Linked DNA regions of Homo sapiens. The protein of the gene in region 1 purifies or fractionates together with the protein of each later gene. This does not show direct contact. Each region holds a gene or a part of one and is shown on either strand. Other genes may lie near its edges.

Region 1 (4,411 bases):
GGATAGATGGGTAGATGGAAAGTTGGATGGATGGATGGATGGATGGATGGATGGATGGATGGATGGATGGATAGGGATTTTGGAGGAAGAGGAGTGAGCAGTCACTGAAAAGAATAGAAAAATAATGAGGCTTGCTCCCTCTCCCTAGTCAGAAGAGCCAGTAAGCAGCTTAGAGCTTTAATCCCACAAATTGTCAGGCAGCTGGCGCAAGAACAGGGAAAAAGAGAGAGAGAGAGAGAGAGAGACCCTGTCTGTGGTAGGTTATGGTCATCAGTGAAAAAGAACAAAAACCTTTGTTTTAAAACTCTCCTCAAAACAGATGATTGGCTAGAGGGTGCGGCACAAAGGAACTTGTCAGGGTGATGGAGACATTCTGTATCTGGATTGAGCAATGCAAGAACCTGGGTAAAGACACAGTCATGGTAACAGCTGTATACATCTGTTGAAAACTCATCAAACTTATCATATTTAGAAAGGGTACATTTTGCTTCATGTAAAGTATGCCTCAATAAAGTGTACTTGATTTTAAAATCAGGATAAAGGAAAAAAACATTGATCTTGGATAATGGGCAGGGGTTGGGGAGAAGGTCTTAATTATCATCATATCCTTTTAAAAACGTTTTTCAAGTGTGTGATGCTCTGATGACATTCTTAAGACACAGCAAGGCAAAGCAGTATCCCAAATGAGAGAGTGAGCATTCCAATAAATATTTTCTGTAAGACACTGATATGTCTATGACTATTTGCTAAATTTAAAAATCAACTTGGACCATATTTACTCCCTTAAAGTCTAATAGACGACTAATTTCTTCTATGTTCAGAACAAATATGTTGCTACTTTAAGAACAGCATACATAGGTGTGGTCGGCCCTCTGTGTCTAAGGCTTCTGCATCTGTGGATTCAACCAACAATGGACTGAAAATATTCCAAAAATAAAATAAAATTAATGAAACAACAACAAAAATAAAACAAATAAAAAAATGCCAGGTAACAACTACTTACAAAGCATTTACATAGTATTAGGTGTTAGAAGTAATCAAGAGATGATTTAAATCACCATCTATGATTGGCTGATATGCATAGGTTATATGCAAATACTATGCCACTATATATAAAGGACTTGAACATTCGCAAATTTTGGTATCTGCAGGGGATTCTGGAACCAAACCCCATGGATACCAAGAGACAACTATATATAAAATACTGAAAGAGGCATGGAGAGTGATTTTCAGGCCTCTACCTAAAGCCCTGAATATTAGAAATTACTGAATTTCTTCTCAGGAAGGAAATTACGCCATAAACCAGTGTTGCCACACACCCAGAGAACAAGATGACCCGACGCCCCAGCCTGGTCATGCCACATGAGCTGAGCAGTGGGTAGGCCACTGAGCCAGTGATAGAAATCACAAATTACAAAACGTCAGAGTACTTTCTGGAAATAAGCCTTCCTCTCCAGGGAACAACGCATTTGACACTTGACTGGGATACACTACCGGATCCTCCGAGGGTGATGGTTCTCAAGAAGGCAGAAGCAATGGTGACCAATAGACCTCCTTAAAGGCTGAGCCGCTGGGCACCTTCCTACTCCTCTCGACCGTGCTAGGATGACTGCAGCAGAGTCCCCGAGTCCTTTGATGCAAGGGTCTAGGTGAGTTCGAAGGAGAGCCATACTAGGCCAGGCAGAAAGGCCCATGGTGATGGCTGTCCACCCTGGTCAGGGGAATTCTAGGTTCAGGCCATGCGGCAAGGTCACCTTGAGGGACATGCTTTGCTCTAAGCTCAGCTTAAGTGTGTCTGAACCCCCCTCACTTCTTCCAACTGCAGAAGCACATGGAGAAGGGGGAGAAAGGGTTGCCCACCTCCTAAAATGAGGGCAGCGTGGTGAAGAGCCCCATCATGCCCCACCAAGGTCCTGTGTGCAGGGCAGGGCAGTGCCTATCCAGAAGGCCAGACCTCTAACTGCTGCTCTGTAGGACGTCCGGGCCTCACATGCAGGCTCCTATAAGCTGGCTGTCTTGGCAAGAGGGCCCTGGTACAGCACTGTGTTCATCACAGAAAACCACACCGTACATAATTTGTAACAGACAGAAATGCATTTGGCTCATGGTTCTGGAGACTGGGAACCCAGGATGGAGGGGCCACATCTGGCAAGGGCCTTCTTGCCATGACATGGTGGAAGGTATCACAAGGTTGGGGAAGGAGGGGTGGGCGGGGCGGGAAGAGAGAGAGAGAGAACAAGAGAGAGAGAATCCATTCATAAGGGTGGAGCCCTCATGACTAAACACCTCCCATTAGGTCCCACCTCCCAACACTGTTGCTTTGGGGATTAAGTTTCCAGCTGGCTTTTTTCAAACCTTAGCAACCACCAAACAGACAAGCCCTTCGGCCTGTCCTGGAGGGCGTTGAATGGCATGGCCTGGAGCTCAACCAGGAGAACCGTGCTCAGGAGGAAGAGACCAGAAGGATAACTCAAAAAGTTCTGAGAAGTTCCTAAGACCACCTGAAGAGAAGGAGCCTGCTGCCAATGGTGTGGACACCGCAGTGTGCTTGAGGAGACTTCAGAAACGAGAACTGGTAGGAGAAGGGGGTTGCACAGACCCTTTCCTCAGTTAGGCACCCTCTGCTCCCACCCTCATGCCCACCCTGACATCAGGCTAAGGGAGAGGCGCTCATCCATTGACAGGTGCCAGGCTGTCCTGGGCCTGGCAAACCCTGGCCTTGTACACCCACTCTCCACACGTCTGCCCCCACCCTCCCAGGGGCAGGGCCGGGCTTCCCTGCAGAGACACAGGGCAAAGAGGGAGAGAGAAGGCCTCAGGCCAGGGCATGGCCTAGTGCCTCCCAGCGCCAGGTCCTGACAGCCTGAGAGAGCTGGAATCAAGGAAGGTGATCCTGGGCCCCAGACAGACGTCAGTGAGCTTCAGCCTCTGGTGGCTGCACACCAGCCAGGGCAGCAGCGCCCCCTCCTGCCTGTGTTCAGCTGTGTGGGCTGCAAGAGGACTAAGGAGAGTTTCAAGGAGGCAGGCAGTGGGGGAGGAAGTGTCCCAGGTAGAGGCTGAAGCTTTAAGGAGGATGGGAGGGGAGGCTTCACCCGGAAGGAGCTTTTGGAGCAAGGGCCTGAAGGAAATTGGGGAGAGAGCCTGAGTATCTTTGGTAACTGGGAAGAGAGCATTCCAAGCAAAGGGAAAAGAAGAGAGGCTGTCAGACAAGTGTGCACCCACCATGTCTGGGCACATCGAGAAGGACCCTGTGGCTGGAGGGGAGGAAGGAGGGGAGAATGGAAAGTGAGACCAGAGGTGACCTGACCAGGGCCTTCGGAGCCCCGGTGAGGGGCTCAGCGGGTGGGTGTCATGGGTGTGAAGAGGTAGGTCCCTCATCACCAGTCAGCAAAGCGTTCCCTGGGCTCAGCTGAAGTCCTGCTGGAGTGTGTGCCCCCTGGACTGGAGGGGATGGGATTGGTGGGAATAAAGTTGTGAGTTTGGAGTTGTGGTGAGCAGAGCACGAAGTGAGCCCCCAGCACTGCCACTTCCGCGTGAGGGGTGAACTGGCCCTGCACTCTCTCCCCTTGAGTGTGGGCAGGACAACCCTCTCTGCCTACAACGGCTCAGCACTCGTACTACTGTGGGACAGTGCTTCTGTGATTACGTTCCTTTATAGGAAAAATTGATTTTGCAGATGTAGGTAAGATCTGGACTCGTTTGACTTTGAGTTTATCAAGAAGGATGATTGACAGACACAGTGGCTACTTGAGAGTGGAGGGTGGGAGGAGAAAGAGGATCAGAAAAAAATAACTACTGGGTACTAGGTTTAGTACCTGGGTGACGAAATAATCTGTACAACAAACCCCCATGACACAAGTTTACCCCAATAATGAACCTGCACATGTACTCCTGAACCTAAAATAAAAGTTGAAAAAGGGGCCAGGCGTGGTGGCTCACGCCTGTAATCCCAGCACTTTGGGAGAGGCCGAGGCGGGCGGATCACGAGGTCAGGAGATCGAGACCATCCTGGCTAATGTGGTGAAACCCTGTCTCTACTAAAATTACAAAAAATTAGCCAGGCATGGTGGCAGGCACCTGTAGTCCCAGCTACTGGGGAGGCTGAGGCAGGAGAATGTCATGAACCTGGGAGGCGGAGCTTGCAGTGAGCTGAGACTGGGCCACTACACTCCAGCCTGGGTGACAGAGCGAGACTCTGTCTCAAAAACAAAAAAAAAGTTAAAAAAAAAAAAGAAGGAAGATTATCCTGATGGGCCTGACTCAATCAGGTGAACCCTGAGAGGACACTGGAGGGAGCAGTGGTGTCCCCTGCTGGCCTGGAGCTGCCACAAGGTGAGACTGGGGTGCCATGTGGCCAGGACTTGAGGGCAGCCTCTAGGAGCTGAGGATGGCCCCCGGCCAGCAGCCAGCA
Region 2 (3,646 bases), on another chromosome or scaffold:
AAGAAAAAAGAGTTAATATTCAATTTTCTAAAAAATGCATTAAGAATTTGCCCTTTCTTATGCCCTTTTAAGGTTGATGTGGTGCTTTAAGAAGCTAACATAGAAGGATAAAGTAAGTCTCTACAAAACCCAGAGAAGAGACTGGAAAACTCCTCTCTGGATCCTGCCTGGAGTCACAGCTGTACCAGGAAAAAAAAAAAAAAATTCACTAAGAATGAATACCTTGGTAAGGATTTAACAGCATCAATTTCAAATGTCTCTGTTTAGTATTTTACCAGTCACAAAATGCTGATTATGTCCTCACAGGAATAAGTATCTTAGAATATCTCTGTCCAGTAACCTTTGATTATTCTTAAAAAAAACAACAAAGGAGGCCAGGCACAGTGGCTCATGCCTGTAATCCCAGCACTTTGGGAGGCCGAGGCTGGCAGATCACCTGAGGCCAGGAGTTCAAGACCAGCCTGGGCAACATGGTAAAACCCCGTTTAAATACAAAAATTAGCCCAGCGTGATGGCAGGCACCTGTAATCACAGCTACTAGGGAGGCTGAGGCATGAGAACTGCTTGAACTCGGGAGGCGGAGGTTGCAGTGAGCCAATATCACGCCACTGCACTCCAGCCTGGGTGACAGAGACCCTGTCTCCAAAAAAAACAAAAAGACAAAGGAAATCTGAAGGCTTTTCCTAGTTGCCACAATGTTTCATACAAAAGACAACCACAAAGTAAAACTGCATAGGTAATTTCTATCATTTACTAATGGGTGATGTTCCGTAATGCACTCATGTTAGTTATTCAGTACTTAGAACATTATTTCCTCATAGGAAAATAATAGCACTATCGGCACTCACAGTACTCTGGAACCTAATAACCATTTATAATAAATGTTTCTATGGGAAAATTAATTAACATTTCTAACTGAGATAGAACACATCCCTCCTTCATCTGCTCCCTCCTCCCCTTCACCCTCTTACACACACAAAGAACTGCCTCTGAAGCTCTAGAAATCCTTTTCCTATCAAACACAACGCCAAAAGGGATAATTCTAAGTAGCTGGCAGTGTGGCTCATGTAGCCTTACTTTTCTAAAAGCCTGATATGAAAAACGGGTCAAGGGACACACAGGGCAGAGAAGGGGAAAGACATAGCTGAGGATGGAGGTGAGAAGGAACAGAGATGTGTGCTTACGTATATGTGTTGGCAAAGGGGTTGAAAAAATCCACAGTAATTGGATTGTTTCATTTTCTTCTCACTGTCAGTAGCTGAGTTAGATACAAAGGATGGTAAAGTTCTGTTTGTAATGAATTAACCTTGGCTGAGATGAAAAAGGCATAGTAGGAAACAGCCTATGTACAGGTAGTCTCCTTGACAGAATATAATCATGTTTTATCTTCCCTTGAAAAACAGAACCAAAGACCATATTGATTTGTTTAAACATGCTGATTTAAAATGTACCAAAGATTATTTTGAATGAAGCGAGAGAATGTTTTGATTTATCTAATATCATCAAACTTTTTTCTCTGAGATAAAATAGACTCTCATTCCTCTGTAACAACGCCACGGGGTAAATGAACTAAAGAATATTAAACCTCTTCTGTATTTTCTGATGTAAGAGCCCTCCTTAGGAAAGAGGTAGTGAGAATTCAGGCTGGCTCCGAAGGACAGGAGCTAAGGTGAAAAAGAAGGAAAAAGTGCTTTAAAGGCCTATTACTTAGCAACAGCCCTGGGTTGGGGTAGTATGGTACTCATCTTGCTTGCTCTAGGCCAATTTTGTAAGCACTGGAAAACAGGAGCTCAGCACGTTCCAGTTCTAGTATAAGAGGGGCTAGACATTTTATTTGTATTGCTTGCTACAGGAAGAATGCCCTGGTCATAAGACCACTAATCATAAGAATACTACTGTAAGCCCAGAGATAAGATTAAGAAGGAGGGATGTGATTGCTATACCTACATTTTATTTTGTATTCTTCCACCAAAAAAAAACAAAAACAAAAACAGATCTCTCTTCCTTTTCTGTGCCTGGACTTAAACAGTGCTTAACTCAGTTGCAACATGCATGTAGACCAGGGAAACTAAAATAGGCTGTAAAATCATTTATTCATTCAAAATTCATTTGGCAGTAGTAAAGCATTCATTATTCTAACATTATTTCGCACTTAAAGTGTGCAGAGCTTTTTGCCAGGCTAGTGGTTTTCAGCTTGGTTCTGCATCAGCAATATCTGCTAAGTTTTTGAAAAATATCTATGCTATGGGTTTTACTCCAAACCTACTAAATATATGGGGCAGAGTCCCAGGCATCTGTTTAACTACTTTGAAAAGGTTGGCATCGAGATTCCTTTTTTTTTTCTTGAGACAGTCTCACTCTGCCGCCCAGGCTGGAGTGCAGTGGCGCAATCTCAGCTCACTGCAACCTCCGCCCCCCGGGTTCAAGTGATTCTTGTGACTCAGCCTGCCGAGTAGCTGGGATTATAGGCGTGCACCATCACACCTGGCTAAGTTTTATATTTTTAGTAGAGACAGGATTTCACCATGTTGGCCAGGCCAATCTCAAACTCCCAACCTCAGGTGATCCTCCCGCCTCAGCCTCCCAAAGTACTAGGATTCCAGGCGTGAGCCACTGCGCCCAGCCAGCACCTAGATTCTCAAGTTAACTTCTGCCACTTGATAACTTATTTAACTAGCCTGCCCACACTGATTATACTGGAGTTAGAAAACTACTAGGCTGCTGAATTTGGTCCTCAGAATGCTTTTATCTGGCACAATGTTTTTAAAGGTTTCGAACACACTGTCAAGTTTTACAAATCATACTTCACATAAAACCCCAGGATCTCTGGTTTTAGAAAAGTAAAAGATCTAAAATCTTACTGAAGAAGGTAGAAGTGTCTGACCAAAGAAACATAGTAGTACTGCAGAAACATTACAGTACTGCAGGTCCATGTTGAAGGTCAGTGTAGATTCGGCTCCCATTTATGATGATAGCCATGTACCCCACTGTATGACTTTCTGCAGCAATTTTTGACTGCCTTTGGGGATACATGAGTAGAATGGAACCTTGGATGTGAATTTAAAGTACTGGTAAGAAAGTAAATGCAGTTAATAAAATGAAGGACCATGAAATCTAAGCTGAACAAAGAAGTAAAACAGGTACAGAAATGTAGAGAGGTGAAATACCGAGGTCTGAATGAAAATAAAGACTAGCCAAAATAGCAGTTAATCATAATGATAATGATGATACACATGAAGTGCTTATTCTGTGCCAGTCACTTTAAGCACTTTGCATGTATTAAAGTCTCACTAAAAATCACATAAATTAGGTACCATTATTTTCCCCATTTGAAAGGTGAGGAAACAGGCACAGACAAGCTAAGCAATTTGCGTAAGAAACAACAATGCTGACAAATGACAGAGCTGGGATTCAAATTCTGGCAATGTAGCTCCAAAGGCTATAGTGCTAACCACTATGCTAAAATGCATCTCTAGCAAGCAACTAGAAAGAAAGAGATTAAGATTCAAGAATGAGACATTTAAATTAGTGATTAAATGGTGGAATTCTGAGGTGATGAATTCTAGGGAATTAGGGGAATACCATAAATTATGGTAAACTTGGGGTTTGGGATACACATTAATCAAGTTTTCAAAACAGCACAAAT
Region 3 (4,279 bases), on another chromosome or scaffold:
AAAGATGGCCATCAGCAGGACAGTTATTAAAGAATTAACTATAAAAGACACCTTTCTTGGATCATTTATTCACCCTTTTAATCATTTAACAAATATTTATTAGTGCCTAATATGTGCCAGGTCCAAGGGATAGAATGGCAAATGAGAGCATGAATGCTACTCTCAAGGAGTTTATAATCTATGGAGGAGATAAACAAGTAATTACCAAACAATGTGGTAGTGTTGTTACAGGGGAAGTAGGTGAAGGGTACTATGGCAGTAGGTATAGGGACATCTAGTCCAGTCTAGGGGAAGCTTCTTGGATGTTCAACTTGAGATCTGAAGGCTTAAAGAAGGGGAGGGATATGAGGAAAAGGCCCAGAAAGAGAAAACACACTGTGTGGAAATCTGGAGGCACCATAGCATCGCCAGGTTAGGGAACTAAAAGAAGTTCAGGAAGTCTAAAGAATAAATTGGAGCCACAGCTGAAGAGAGAAGAGCCAGGGTCCCATCAATAAGGGACCTGAAAAGCCATGTAAAGGAGTTTGAACTTCATCCTGTGCCGTGGTGAGCAAGATTGAATACGTGACCTCTGATTTCAGATTTCATTTCAAATAAACCTTTCAGTTAATACAAAACAGAAAAAATGAGCAGGGAGGGGCGCAGGGGGCAATGGTGGTGTTTCCAAGGTAACCACACCTCTCTAGAGAGGTGCTTTTTATTAAACAAATATTCACTACAACTCTACTATGTGCCCGCAACTGATCTAGATGCTGGTGAATACAGGAGAGAACAAGACAGACAGTATCTTGGACCTCATGGACAGATAACAAACACATGAATATACAAATGAACCATAGTAATAAATGCCAAGAAGAAAATAAAACATGGAAATGAGGAAGAAGGCAGCCGAAATGGAAAGCTACTTTGGTTGTGGGCAGGGTGTCAGGTAAGACCTTCCTAAAGCGACATTTTTATTAATACCGAAAGGATGATAAAGTAGCCACATAAATATCTGAACAGAGAACATTCCATGCAAAGGAATCTTTGGGTCTTTCTTCCACATTTGTAAAAACCAGGTTTAACAATTAATTACTGCATGTGGATGCATGTGTGAAGTGAAAGTCTATGATTATAAGGCATACAAAATTAGAAAGCCACTTCCTCGGTTCAACGTATCAATTATATCCATGCTAAAAATCGTAGAGGCTGCAATGCAAAGCCAATTTTCTACTGACATTCTTATCTTTATTCTAAATGAAAAGAAAAGCTAATTAAATATTGTTATTTTTCTTAAATTGGTACTAAGGCTAAAAATAACCCTGAGTTGTCACCAAGGGCACTGGGTAGTCTTAGAAAGGTTTTAAGCAGAAGAGTTACATGTCTAGGTTTTTTTACATTAATACATTTGAATATTATGCAGCCAATAAAAACAATACTTATGAAAACTATAGAAAAGGTGGTAAATTTTAAAAATGAAAAAACTATTGCATTAGAGTGGTAGGATTATGGATGGCTTTTCCTTCTTTCTTATTTTCTTAAATATTGTAAACAAGTTTTTGAAGAGAAAAGGACAATGCTCCGCTCTACGGAGACGAGTATTAGGATGAAGCAATACAAAAACGGAATCAAAGAACACAAATTTAGTTCACTTTAAGCCCCCAAAGGTAACTGCTTCTGTTATTTGCCGTTTGAGAGAAAGAACAAGTAAAAACAACCACACACACACAAAATCTTTATTGGAAAGATGGGGGGAAGAAGGTCAACAGGCAGTCTGAGCTTCACAAATATTGGCCAACAATTATTTATTGAATGCCTGCACTTGGAAGTGGGGATACAGCTATGAACAAGGCAGGATCTCAAAAAACAAAATCAGAAACACAGACATAAATGATGCCAGTGCTATGATGAATGCTAGGAAGAAACAATAATTAACAATAGATTACATGGTAAAAGCAAGAGGCTAACTAGACGAAACTTCTATTGAGCAGAGACAGTGTCTTACATGTTTTTACGCTCAGAGCTTTATATAATGGTCGATAAATGTTTGTTGACTGTACAAACAAATGAAGGTGGCCAATGGAGAAGAAATGAGGGTCAGAAAAACATCCGGAAAAGGTGGGTAACTAAGCAGAGGATAAAGGACGAGGTGTCAGTGCAAAAACGAAACCTTATACTTTCAAGCACAGGTATTACCTTATACTGATACTTTGAAGCAGCAAATTTCTCCACACCCGGATTCAGGATTTGACATCTAACAGCAAAGCCTGCACTGACGTGTCCTCAGTATCCAGTATTGGCGCGTCGCACACCGCGCGCCCAGAACCACACAGGCTTCCCCAGTCCAGGATCAGTTGGCGCAGCCCGGAAGCTTCGAGGAGCTCCTAGAACCGCCGCCTTAGCTGGCGGCGCCGGCTCTTAGCCTGGAGGTCGGCGGACCGCTTCCAAAAGTGGACCGAAATTCCGGGGATGGATGCCGGGTGGGGACGCGGACGGCCGCAGGCCAGTCTCCTGACAGCCGGGGCTGAGGGAACCGGCCGCAGCAAATCGCACACCCTCTCTGGGTGCCAGAGTGACTAGCGCAGGACGCGTAAGAGAGGAGCGAGACCCCGGACCAGCCCGCACCGCGGAGGACCGGAGAGGGCGATTCGGTAAAGGGAGGCGGACGGGTGTCGGGGCGGGAGGCGGTGACTCACCTGGGAGGTAATCATGATGCTGGAGTCGATGAGGAAACTCATGGCGAAGTGTAAGGAAGGCTCCTGCCTCCACTTCCCACTCCCCGAGGCCACAGCACGCTGGGGCCACAGGCCCCCTCACACGGTCTGCCTTCTCCCAGGTGCTGCAGCCGGGACTGCGGCTCTCCAGCCCGACGCCATCAAGCTGCGCCCCAGTCAGCCAATCAGCGTCTACATCCACAGCCCCGCCTCGGGCTCGGGGTGGGTGGGGCGGACGCTAGGCTCCCGCCGCGGAGGCCCCAGGGGCGGGGCTTATTAGGGGCGGTGCTAAAAGCAGCAATGCAAGGTAGCGTTAACGTTTCTGAGGCTGAAGGAGGTAGGGCCTGAGAGCTAAGTGGTAATTCTGTTTTGTAATGATCCTAAGATAATAATGGTAATTATAGTAAGTCGGGCATTGTGTCCTAAATGTTATAACTTTTACTTGACTCGGCAAATATGACTGTACAAAGTGAGGGAAGACTGGAAAGTCAGATGAGATATGAACAAATATAACTAACCAAATACATTTCTGTGACAACAATGAAAAGCACACTGTCTGTAGCAATTTAGTGATAATATTGTACTGCATATCAGTCAGGCCACAGGTGGAGTACTGCACTCCATGTACCACACTTTGAAGAGATTTTACAGGCCGGGCCGGCTCACGCCTGTAATCCCAGCACCTGGGGAGACCAAGGCGGGCGGATCACCTGAGGTCGCAAGTTCAAAACCAGCCTGACAAGCATGGAGAAACCCTGTCTCTACTAAAAATACAAAATTAGCCGGGCGTGGTGGTGCATGCCTGTAATCCCAACTACTAGGGAGGCTGAGGCAGGAGAATCGCTTGAACCCGGGAGGGGAGGTTGCGGTGAGCCGAGATCGCGCCATTGCACTCCAGCCTGGGCAACAAGAGCGAAACTCCATCTCAAAAAAAAAAAAAAAGAAAAGAAAAAAGAAGAGAGAGATTCTACAGAGACATATTGGAGCTCGCTCAAATGTGAGCCACCAGATAAGGGCTGCTGGAAGGAGGCGAAGAAAGATGACTCAGAACATGACATCTGTCTTCATGTGAAAGAATGGGTAGAACTGATGTGGCGCTACGAATTATCTGTAGGGCAAAGGACTGGAAGTTAAATGAAGATAGATTTTAATTCAAAACAAGGATCAGTTCTTTAAGAGTCTGAAGAAGGGTTATTTTAGGAAGTAGCTGCCTCTGCCCCCTTCCCACCTATTGCAGTGGATCAAATATACACTGAATCACTACCTCATTCATTCAACACTCATTTCATGAAGGCTTAACGCATTGCTGTGGGGCTTACTCTGCCGCCGACCTGGGGCCTAGCTAGGCTTTGTAGTCTATATAGTCTCATAGTCCTGCAAACTGGCTCCAGCCCAGGAAATCACCCTGTGTAGGAGTGGCTGCAGTCAAGACGCAGGAAGACAATCCTGAGGGGACCTGACATCCAGCATCTGAGTTCAGACTACTATAGTTTGAATAAGTGATCTGCAGATTCATTATACACAAGGGAACATGTCTTCCTTTTGTTGGATTGAACTCTGTGATACCAAGCAGTCAAAACTACCTG

Evidence for each region.
Region 2: the proteins of KCNE1 (region 1) and INTS7 purify together in Homo sapiens (affinity purification with mass spectrometry; one large-scale study listed by BioGRID and IntAct). This does not show direct contact.
Region 3: the proteins of KCNE1 (region 1) and GPR89A purify together in Homo sapiens (affinity purification with mass spectrometry, with the first as the bait; one large-scale study listed by BioGRID). This does not show direct contact.

Annotation. Positions count from the first base shown.
Region 1 is NC_000021.9:34,509,265-34,513,675, reverse strand, and holds the start of KCNE1 (potassium voltage-gated channel subfamily E member 1), read left to right. Parts: upstream 1-1,465; 5' UTR 1,466-1,649; intron 1,650-2,351; exon of another isoform or gene 2,352-2,360; 5' UTR 2,361-2,575; intron 2,576-4,411. UniProt on the Homo sapiens protein: Ancillary protein that functions as a regulatory subunit of the voltage-gated potassium (Kv) channel complex composed of pore-forming and potassium-conducting alpha subunits and of regulatory beta subunits.
Region 2 is NC_000001.11:212,025,502-212,029,147, forward strand, and holds part of INTS7 (integrator complex subunit 7), read right to left. Parts: intron 182-3,646; exon of another isoform or gene 60-181; intron 1-59. UniProt on the Homo sapiens protein: Component of the integrator complex, a multiprotein complex that terminates RNA polymerase II (Pol II) transcription in the promoter-proximal region of genes.
Region 3 is NC_000001.11:145,606,572-145,610,850, reverse strand, and holds the start of GPR89A (Golgi pH regulator A), read right to left. Parts: upstream 2,864-4,279; 5' UTR 2,718-2,863; coding exon 2,676-2,717; intron 2,234-2,675; exon of another isoform or gene 2,176-2,233; intron 1-2,175. UniProt on the Homo sapiens protein: Voltage-gated channel that enables the transfer of anions such as iodide, chloride, bromide and fluoride which may function in counter-ion conductance and participates in Golgi acidification.